Regions from separate parts of the Homo sapiens genome. Here region 2 is linked to region 1. Evidence: fine-mapped expression QTL. A gene starts in region 1. The other region holds a variant in brackets. All regions are shown on one strand. Distances are from middle to middle.

Evidence for each region. PIP is the estimated chance that this variant, and not a neighbour inherited with it, causes the effect.
Region 2: its variant is the best candidate, but not a certain one, in a credible set for the expression of ZNF554 in whole blood (INTERVAL, PIP 0.62).

The regions. Positions count from the first base shown.
Region 1 is chr19:2,817,626-2,822,014 of GRCh38, reverse strand. It overlaps ZNF554 (zinc finger protein 554), which reads right to left and starts at 2,147. Exons shown (of 5, transcript NM_001102651.2): 1 at 1,891-2,147. The coding sequence starts at 1,943. RefSeq lists an enhancer at 1,043-1,736 and a silencer at 1,669-2,108.
Region 2 is chr19:2,849,410-2,853,798 of GRCh38, reverse strand. It overlaps ZNF555 (zinc finger protein 555), which reads right to left. Exons shown (of 4, transcript NM_152791.5): 2 at 3,086-3,212; 3 at 2,148-2,331; 4 at 1-1,419. Among named protein-coding and RNA genes, the nearest start is that of ZNF555, 10 kb to the right of the region's middle. The variant T/C (reference allele first, on the strand shown) is at 2,466.

The sequences.
Region 1 (4,389 bases):
GCCTCTTCCAGCTACTGGGGTCATGAGTATTGTCCTTATAAGAGAAAGAGACAGCTGGACTAGGTGACTCACGTCTGTAATCCCAGCATTTTGAAAGGCCAAGGCGGGCAGACCACGAGGTCAGGAGTTCGAGACCAGCCTGGCCAACATGGCAAAACCCCCGTCTCTACTAAAAATACAAAAATTAGCTGGGTGTGGTGGCGTGCACCTGTAATCCCAGCTACTCGAGAGGCTGAGGCAGAATTGCTTGATCCTGTGGGGTAGAGATTGCAGTGAGCCGAGATCGTGCCACTGCACTCCAGCCAGGTGACAGACCGAGACCCCATCTCAAAAAATAAAAATAAAAACAAAAAAGGAGAAAGAGACACAGGGAAGAAGGCCACATGATGATGCAGGCAGAGCTTGGAGTGATGTGGCCCCAAGCCAAGGGACACCAACTATGGCAGGCCACCCCCAGAAGCTGGAAGAGACAGAGAAGATCCTCCCGCCAGAGCCTTCAGAAGCACCACGGCCCCACCACATCTTCATGTTGGGCTTCTGGCCTCCAGACTTGTGAGAGAATAAATTTCAAGCCTCCCCCTGCCCCCTGGTTTGTGGTGCATTGTCACAGCAGCTCCAGGAGGCTCATGTAAGAACCAAAGGCGCCGGGCGCAGTGGTCACTTTGGGAGGCCGAGGTAGGTGGATCACCTGAGGTCAGGAGTTCGATACCAGCCTGGCTGGCCAACATGGAGAAACTCTGTATCTACTAAAAATATAAAAATTAGCCAGGCGGGGTGGCGTGCACCTGTAATCCCAGCTACTTGGGAGGCTGAGGCAGGAGAATCACTTGAACCCACGAGGTGGATGCAGTGAGCCGAGATCGTGCAACTGCACTCCAGCCTGGGCAATAGGGCGAGACTGTCTCAAGAAAAAAAAAAGAAGAAGAAAAAGAAACCAACCTGTTTGGGTAGGGGAGAGTTCAGGGAGGTTGGGGTTGCTAGAGCAGCAGAAAGGTCAGCTGCCTCCCTCATTCCTCAACATGGGTGGTGGGTATAAACAGAATAGACCCTTGCAGCTGCGCGGTGGCTCACGCCTGTAATCCCAGCACTTTGGGAGGCTGAGGCGGGTGGATCACCTGAGGTGGGAGTTCGAGACCAGCCTGGCCAACATGGTGAAACCCCGTCTCTACTAAAAATGCAAAAATTAGCCGGGCGTGGTGGCATACGCCTGTAATCCCAGCTACTTGGGAGGCTGAGGCAGGACAATGGCTTGAACCCGGGAGGCGGAGGTTGCAGTGAGCCGAGATCATGCCATTGCACTCCAGACTCCGTCTCAAAAAAAAAAAAAAAAGGACCCTTGCTGTCTTATCACCAGGACAGCGGTGCTAACGTATAAGTGAGGTCTCTCCCTCAGGGCGCTGTGGACACTGGAGCCTGGGTCATTCTCTGGGCTGGGCAGGGTGCTGAGTTGCATCCCTGGCCTCCACCTACTCCATGCCAGGAACTGCCCCCAGTTATGACAACCACAGACGTCCCCAGACATCGCCCGGTGTCCCCTGGAGGGCAGGACCGCCCCTCGCTCAGACCCTCTGATGTGGCCTCACTGCAGTGCGAGCGTGGCAGCCCCTCTCTGCCTTTAGGGTAGAGTCAATGCGTCTTCTCCCTCTCCTTGCAGGCTGGGCCTCGGAAAGCTTATGCGTCTCTCACCCAGGGGCGTTTTCACAGGGCAAGGGCAGACCGTGCCATCCTGGGCGTTGGGGCCCTGGGCGAGCTGCCGGCTCCCGACCCTCCCGTGGGGACCCTATCGCGACAGGGTCATGCCCCGGCCACCCGGCCCCGCCAGACCCAGCCCCACCAGAGCCCCGGCAGGCCCGGCACGGAGGTCGCGGCGCGGGAGGCGGCGGCACTTACGGCTGAGCTGCCGGGAGCCGCGCGCGCCGGCCCAGGTGGGCGCAGGTGACCATCGGGGCGCGCGCTGAGGCGCCAGACAGGGCCCCCGAGGCGGGAGCGCCCCGTGCAGGCCGGCCGGCCTCCCCTGCGTGTCCCTGGGACGCCTCCTCCGCTCGGCTCCTCGGCGCTCGGAGCGGACGCCCCCCGCAGGCGCCCCTCAGGAACTCGCCGCAGCCGCCGCCACCAACCCCGACGCGCGCAGAGGTAAACTCGGCACTGCGCCTGCGCACCCCGAACCTGCGAACTACAAGTCCCAGCAGGCCCCGCAGCGCGGCGCTGGGCTCCTGACTCTCCAACCTGGGTCACAGCGCCGCCTCCGGGCGGGCGGCGTCTCCGCAGGACCACGATGCCCCTGCGGCTGTTGGATCCACCCCGTGTGGTTCGCTGGAGTCCCCGGGTGTTGTGGGGTTCGCGGAGCCAATCCTCAAATCCCAGCTCCGTCGTTTCCCGGCGGCTTGCCATTGGATATTAATAACTACTATTATTTATTAAGCAAGTTATATAAACGTATAATGTATTACATACTTATTAAAATGATTGCTTAAGTAATTGTTGTTTGTTTTTGAGACTGAGTTTCGCTCTTGTCGCCCAGGCTGGAGTGCAATGGCATGATCTCAGGTCACTGAAACCTCCGCCCCCTCGGGTTCAAGCGATTATCCTGCCTCAGTCTCCCAAGTAGCTGGGATTACGGGCGTGCACAACCACACTCGGCTAATTTTTTATATTTTTGGTAGCGACGCGGTTTCACCATGTTGGCCAGGCTGGTCTCGAACTCCTGACTTCCAGTGATCTGCCCGCCTTGGCCTCCCAAAGTGCTGGGATTACAGGCGTGAGCCACCACGCCCAGCCAAATTAAATTATTGTTTAAATATTTATTTAATATTCTACTGATTGTTATTTATGAGAAATTAAAATAGTAAAACTACTATAATTAATATACTGTTGTAGGATACAACAAATTCCTCTTCAAAGGTTTTAGCCTGTAAATTGTTAAGTACAATCAGTTATGAGCTCCTCTCCAAAGAACCAATGTTTCCGTATATTCAGCTCCCCTGTTCTTTTTTTTTTTTTTTTTGAGATGGAGTCTCGCTCTGTCGCCCAGGCTGGAGTGCAGCGGCGCGATCTCGGCTCACTGCAAGCTCCGCCTCCCAGGTTCACGCCATTCTCCTGCCTCAGCCTCCCAAGCAGCTGGGACCACAGGCGCCCGCCACCACGCCCGGCTAATTTTTTTGTATTTTTAGTAGAGACGGAGTTTCACCGTGTTAGCCAGGATGGTCTCGATCTCCTGACCTCGTGATCCGCCTGCCTCAGCCTCCCAAAGTGCTGGGATTACAGGCGTGAGCCACCGCGCCCGGCCACCTATTCTTTGTTCTTCATTTTAAACTTTAACTTCCTCGTTCTTTTCGTTTCCTTGCCCCTAGTTTCAGTAAACAACCCCTCCTAGCCCCTATCACCTGCTCTGACCTTAGTCACCCTTGGTCACCTGCTCTGACCTTAGTCATCCTTGGTCACCTGCTCTGACCTTAGTCATCCTTGTCACCTGCTCTGACCTTAGTCATCCTTGGTCACCTGCTCTGACCTTAGTCATCCTTGGTCACCTGCTCTGACCTTAGTCATCCTTGTCACCTGCTCTGACCTTAGTTATCCTTGGTCACCTGCTCTGTTCTTAGTCACCCTTGTCACCTGCTCTGACCTTAGTTATCCTTGGTCACCTGCTCTGTTCTTAGTCACCCTTGTCACCTGCTCTGACCTTAGTTATCCTTGGTCACCTGCTCTGACCTTAGTCATCCTTGGTCACCTGCTCTGTTCTTAGTCACCCTTGTCACCTGCTCTGACCTTAGTTATCCTTGGTCACCTGCTCTGTTCTTAGTCACCCTTGTCACCTGCTCTGACCTTAGTCATCCTTGGTCACCTGCTCTGACCTTAGTTATCCTTGGTCACCTGCTCTGACCTTAGTCACCCTTGTCACCTGCTCTGACCTTAGTTATCCTTGGTCACCTGCTCTGTTCTTAGTCACCCTTGTCACCTGCTCTGACCTTAGTCATCCTTGGTCACCTGCTCTGACCTTAGTCACCCTTGTCACCTGCTCTGACCTTAGTCATCCTTGGTCACCTGCTCTGACCTTAGTTATCCTTGGTCACCTGCTCTGACCTTAGTTATCCTTGGTCACCTGCTCTGTTCTTAGTCACCCTTGTCACCTGCTCTGACCTTAGTCATCCTTGGTCACCTGCTCTGACCTTAGTTATCCTTGGTCACCTGCTCTGACCTTAGTTATCCTTGGTCACCTGCTCTGTTCTTAGTCACCCTTGTCACCTGCTCTGACCTTAGTTATCCTTGGTCACCTGCTCTGTTCTTAGTCACCCTTGTCACCTGCTCTGACCTTAGTTATCCTTGGTCACCTGCTCTGTTCTTAGTCATTCTGAGTCACCTTTTCTGTAGCCGTCCTTCCTGCCAAACTAC
Region 2 (4,389 bases), 32 kb before region 1:
GATGAGGAACAATTGAATGCTTTCCCACAATGCTTACATTGATAAGGTTTCTCTCCAGTGTGCAGTCTCATATGTATTGGTAAAGATGATGGCCATTTGAAGACCTTCCCACATTCCTTACATTCATAGGGCTTCTCTACAGTGTGCGTTCTCACATGTTGTTGCAAAAGTTCAGGCCAACTGAAAGCTTTCCCACACTGCTTGCATTTATAGAGTTTCTCTGCGGTATGTCTTCTCATATGTTTTTGTAAGGATATGTGGCAATAGAAAGCTTTCCCACATAGCTTGCATTCATAGGATTTGTCTTCAGGGTGCATTCTCACATGTTCTCGAAAGCAAGCAGACAAGCTGAAGGCTTTCCCACACTGCTTACATTCATAGGGTTTCTCTCTAGTATGTGTTCTCATATGTTTTCGTAAAGATATGGGCCAATTGAAAGTTTTCCCACATTGCTTGCACTCATAGGGTTTCTCTCCAGTGTGCACCCTCATGTGTCCTCGAAAGGAGGAGGGGTGACTGAATGCTTTCCCGCACTGGTTGCATTCATAGGGTTTCTCTCCACCATGAGTCCTTTCATGTCTTCGAAAGGACTGGGGATAAATGAAGGTCTTCCCACACTGTTTGCATTCGTAGGGTTTCTCTCCAGTGTGAATCCTTTCATGTCTTCGAAAGGACTGGAGATAAATGAAGGTTTTCCCACATTGTTTGCATTCGTAGGGTTTCTCTCCAGTGTGTGTTATCATGTGTCTTCGAAAAGCCGAAGAATAACTGAAGGCCTCCCCACATTCTTTACATTTATGTGGCTTCTCTCCAGTGTGTGAAATCATATGTCTTCGAAAAGTTGAGGAATAACTAAAGGCTTCCGCACATTCCTTACATTTATATGGCTTCTCGCCAGTGTGTGTTATTGTGTGTCTTCGAAACGTTGAGGAATAACTGAAAGCTTTCCCACATTCCTTACACTTATATGGCTTCTCTCCGGTGTGACTTCTGAGATGACTAGTAAGACTTGAGAAGTCAATAAAGGCTTTCCCACATTGCTTACATTCGTAGGTTTTCTCAGCAGTGTGAATCCTTACATGCCGATTGAGGGAGGAAGTACGAGGAAAGGTTTTCCCACATAATTTACACACATAGGGTCTCTCTCCATTGTGGGTTCTCACATGCATTCTTAGGTGTGAACGACAACTGTAGGCCTGCCCACATTCCTGGCACTGATATGGTTTGTGTCCAGTGTGAACTGTGATGGGACTCTTGAGGGATGTGCGGCGATGCATGAAGACTTTTCCGTACGTGTTGTATTCATACTGTTTTACTCCAGGTGGAATTTTCTTGTACAGATTAAGATGTGGAATCTGGCTGAGGGCTTCTCCACATTGATCATTACTTTCACAGAGTCTCTCCAACCCATGATTTCTACTAAAAATGAGAAGCATGTTATTGGTTTGATTAATAATGATTTGTTAGTATTTATTAGGATTAGGACTGCATCTTAACCATTTTCAGTGAAAGCATAGGTTTTTCACCCCATGGGAACTGTCTGAAAATGAAATAAACTGAATGCCCTGGAAGATGGTTTGACCACTGCCATTATTAAAACAGTGTTTCTTATGTATAGGGTTTCTTTCTCTTTCTTTCTTTTTTTTTTTTTGAGACAGAGTCTTACTCTGTTACCCAGGCTGGAGTGCAGTGGTGCAGTCTTAGCTCACTGCAACCTCTGCCTCCTGGGTTCATGCAATTCTGCCTCAGCCTCCCGAGTAGCTGGGATTACAGGCCTGCGGCACCATGCCCTGCTAATGTTTGTATTTTTAGTAGAGACAGGGTTTCACCATGTTGGCCAGGCTGGTCTCGAACTCCTGTCCTCAAGTGATCTGCCCACTTCAGCCTTCCAAAGTGCCAGGATTACAGGTGTGAGCCACCGTACCTGGCCTAGGGTTTCTTGATAATGGTTTCCATCTGAATTATGTTTCTAATGTCACTCACTGTCTATGTCACATTTAAAGAAATATTTTTTTGTAAAAATTCTGTGGATTAAACAAATTGGAGCTAGGCTTGGATGAGTTTTCTGTTTGCTTGCTTTTTTAAAGTTTAATGACAGACTAAGATTCTCTCCTGAAATACTATGTTCTCTTGTGAGTGCAACTCACCTGAGATTTCTCCCCTGGTTTGTGGTTTGATCTTCGATGCTAAGACTGTCCCAAATTTTTCCTAAAACAGAGGCCCAGGAAACATTTCTGGTGAACGTGGCTATTTTAGATTCCTTGGGTATTTTCTCTCCATAAATATCCTGCTGAGAAACTGACCCACTGGCCTTAAATTGAGTTTCATCATCTGAAACCAAAAAGTAAACAAATCATATAAGAAGGCACTTGTTAGCGGAAAACGACACTGAGGAGTTTAGCTATCTCAGGACTTCATTAAACACAAAATGGTCAAAAAGGTAAGCAACTCAATCAACACAGTAT[T/C]AGTAAGCATAGAAAAATTATTAAAAAAAAAAATTCACGGCCAGGCGCGGTGGCTCATGCCTGTAATCCCAGCACTTTGGGAGGCTGAGGCGGGTGGATCACAACGTCAGGAGTTCAAGAGCAGCCTGGCTGACATGGTGAAACCCCGTCTCTACTAAAAATACAAAAATTGGCCAGGGATGGTGGCGCTCGCCTGTAATCCCAGCTACTTGGGCGCCTGAGGCAGATAATTGCTTGAACTCGGGAGGCAGAGGTTGCAGTGAGTCGAGATCACACCACTGCACTCCAGCCTGGGCGACAGAGTGAGACTCCATCTCAAAAAAAAAAAAAAAAATCAAATTTTCACTGGCTTGCACAAACAAATTTCACTAGGCCTATCAAAGCTATATCCACAATGACGACATGAAGGGAGCTTTCTCTACAAAAATAAAAAGCTGAAATACAGATTCTCATTCTCATGGAAAAACATTACATTCTAGCTCTATGACAGCTGTGACTATGTCTGTCTTATTTACCAATTTATTCCCTTTCCACATTCCAAGCCTTGGAACAGGTCTGATGTGTAAGAAATACTTGTTCTCTCAATAACTACGTGAAGGAAGGAATGATGTCATCCTTACCTACTGAGGCCAGGTTCTGAAAGGTCTCCAGCATCACATCTCTGTAGAGGTCCCTCTGAGCAGAATCCAGCAAAGCCCACTCCTCCAGGGTGAAGTCCACAGCCACATCCTCAAAGACCACTGAGTCCTAAAACAATTCAACATATTTATGGGAGGATGGTTGAGACCGAGAGCCCAGGAGCATTGTACTCAATTCGTATGTAGTTCAAACAAGATTCTGTGATTCCCTGACATCTACCCTGTGACTCAGTTGTCACACCTCTTCCTTCCTGTCTACACTCACTTCCTCATAGATTTCACAGGACCATTAACACACTGAATTTCTCTCTATACTTTTACTGGGACCAACTGAAGACATTATTCTCTATCAAAAGGATTCAGACCACATTGGAGATATCAAACAAATGCTATATAAGTGAAACAAATACTTGTATTTTAAGACCATCAGTGCCTTGTCACACAAACCGTTTTAGCTCCTCCCCTGCTGCACACACCATCATTCGGCACTACACAAAGCACAGGGTCAAAACTGAAGTTTTATGGGATAAAAACACTGAAGGATTGGGAACATTCCCTTCTATTTCCTTCATAAGGGCCAGGTAGCCATAGCGTCTTAAAGAACTCCTGGTCCAACTGGCTGAATGAAAACATTCTTTTGAGAAGTATTGATTTTAACTTGGAAACTAGAAGTTATTGAGAAATTAGACCTTAGGAAAGAGGAAAAAGACACGAGAACGTAGACCTCCACACATTCCCTATACTTCGAGCCTCAGTGACGGAAGCCCAACAATTAATTCTGGGTTCTCTCTCTCTCACACGCTGGCTCTCTCTCGTACACACAGGCACACTCACTAAGTATACACAGAGCGAGGTGCACACAATGCCAAAACAGCTCTTTTCACCAGAGCCGAAAGAAAGTATTCTTGGGCCAAGTGTGGTGGCTCATGCCTGTAACCCCAGCACTTTGGGAGGCCGCGGCAGGCAGATCATTTGAGGTCAGGAGTTCAAAACCAGCCTGGCCAACATGGTGAAACCTCATCTCTACTGAAAAAAAAAAAAAAATTAGCCGGGCATGGTGGTGCACGCCTGTAGTCCCAGCTACTTGGGAGGCTGAGGCACGAAAATTGCTTGAACCCGGGAGGCAGAGGTTGCAATGCATCAAGATCATGCCACTGCACTCCAGCCTGGGTGATAGGGCAGGACTCAGTCTCAGAAAAAAAAAAAAAAAAAGTATTATTGCTAACCTTAAGGATAAAGTTAAGAGTCCCACTTTGCAAAGGAGTTAACTGAAGTCCAAACCATTT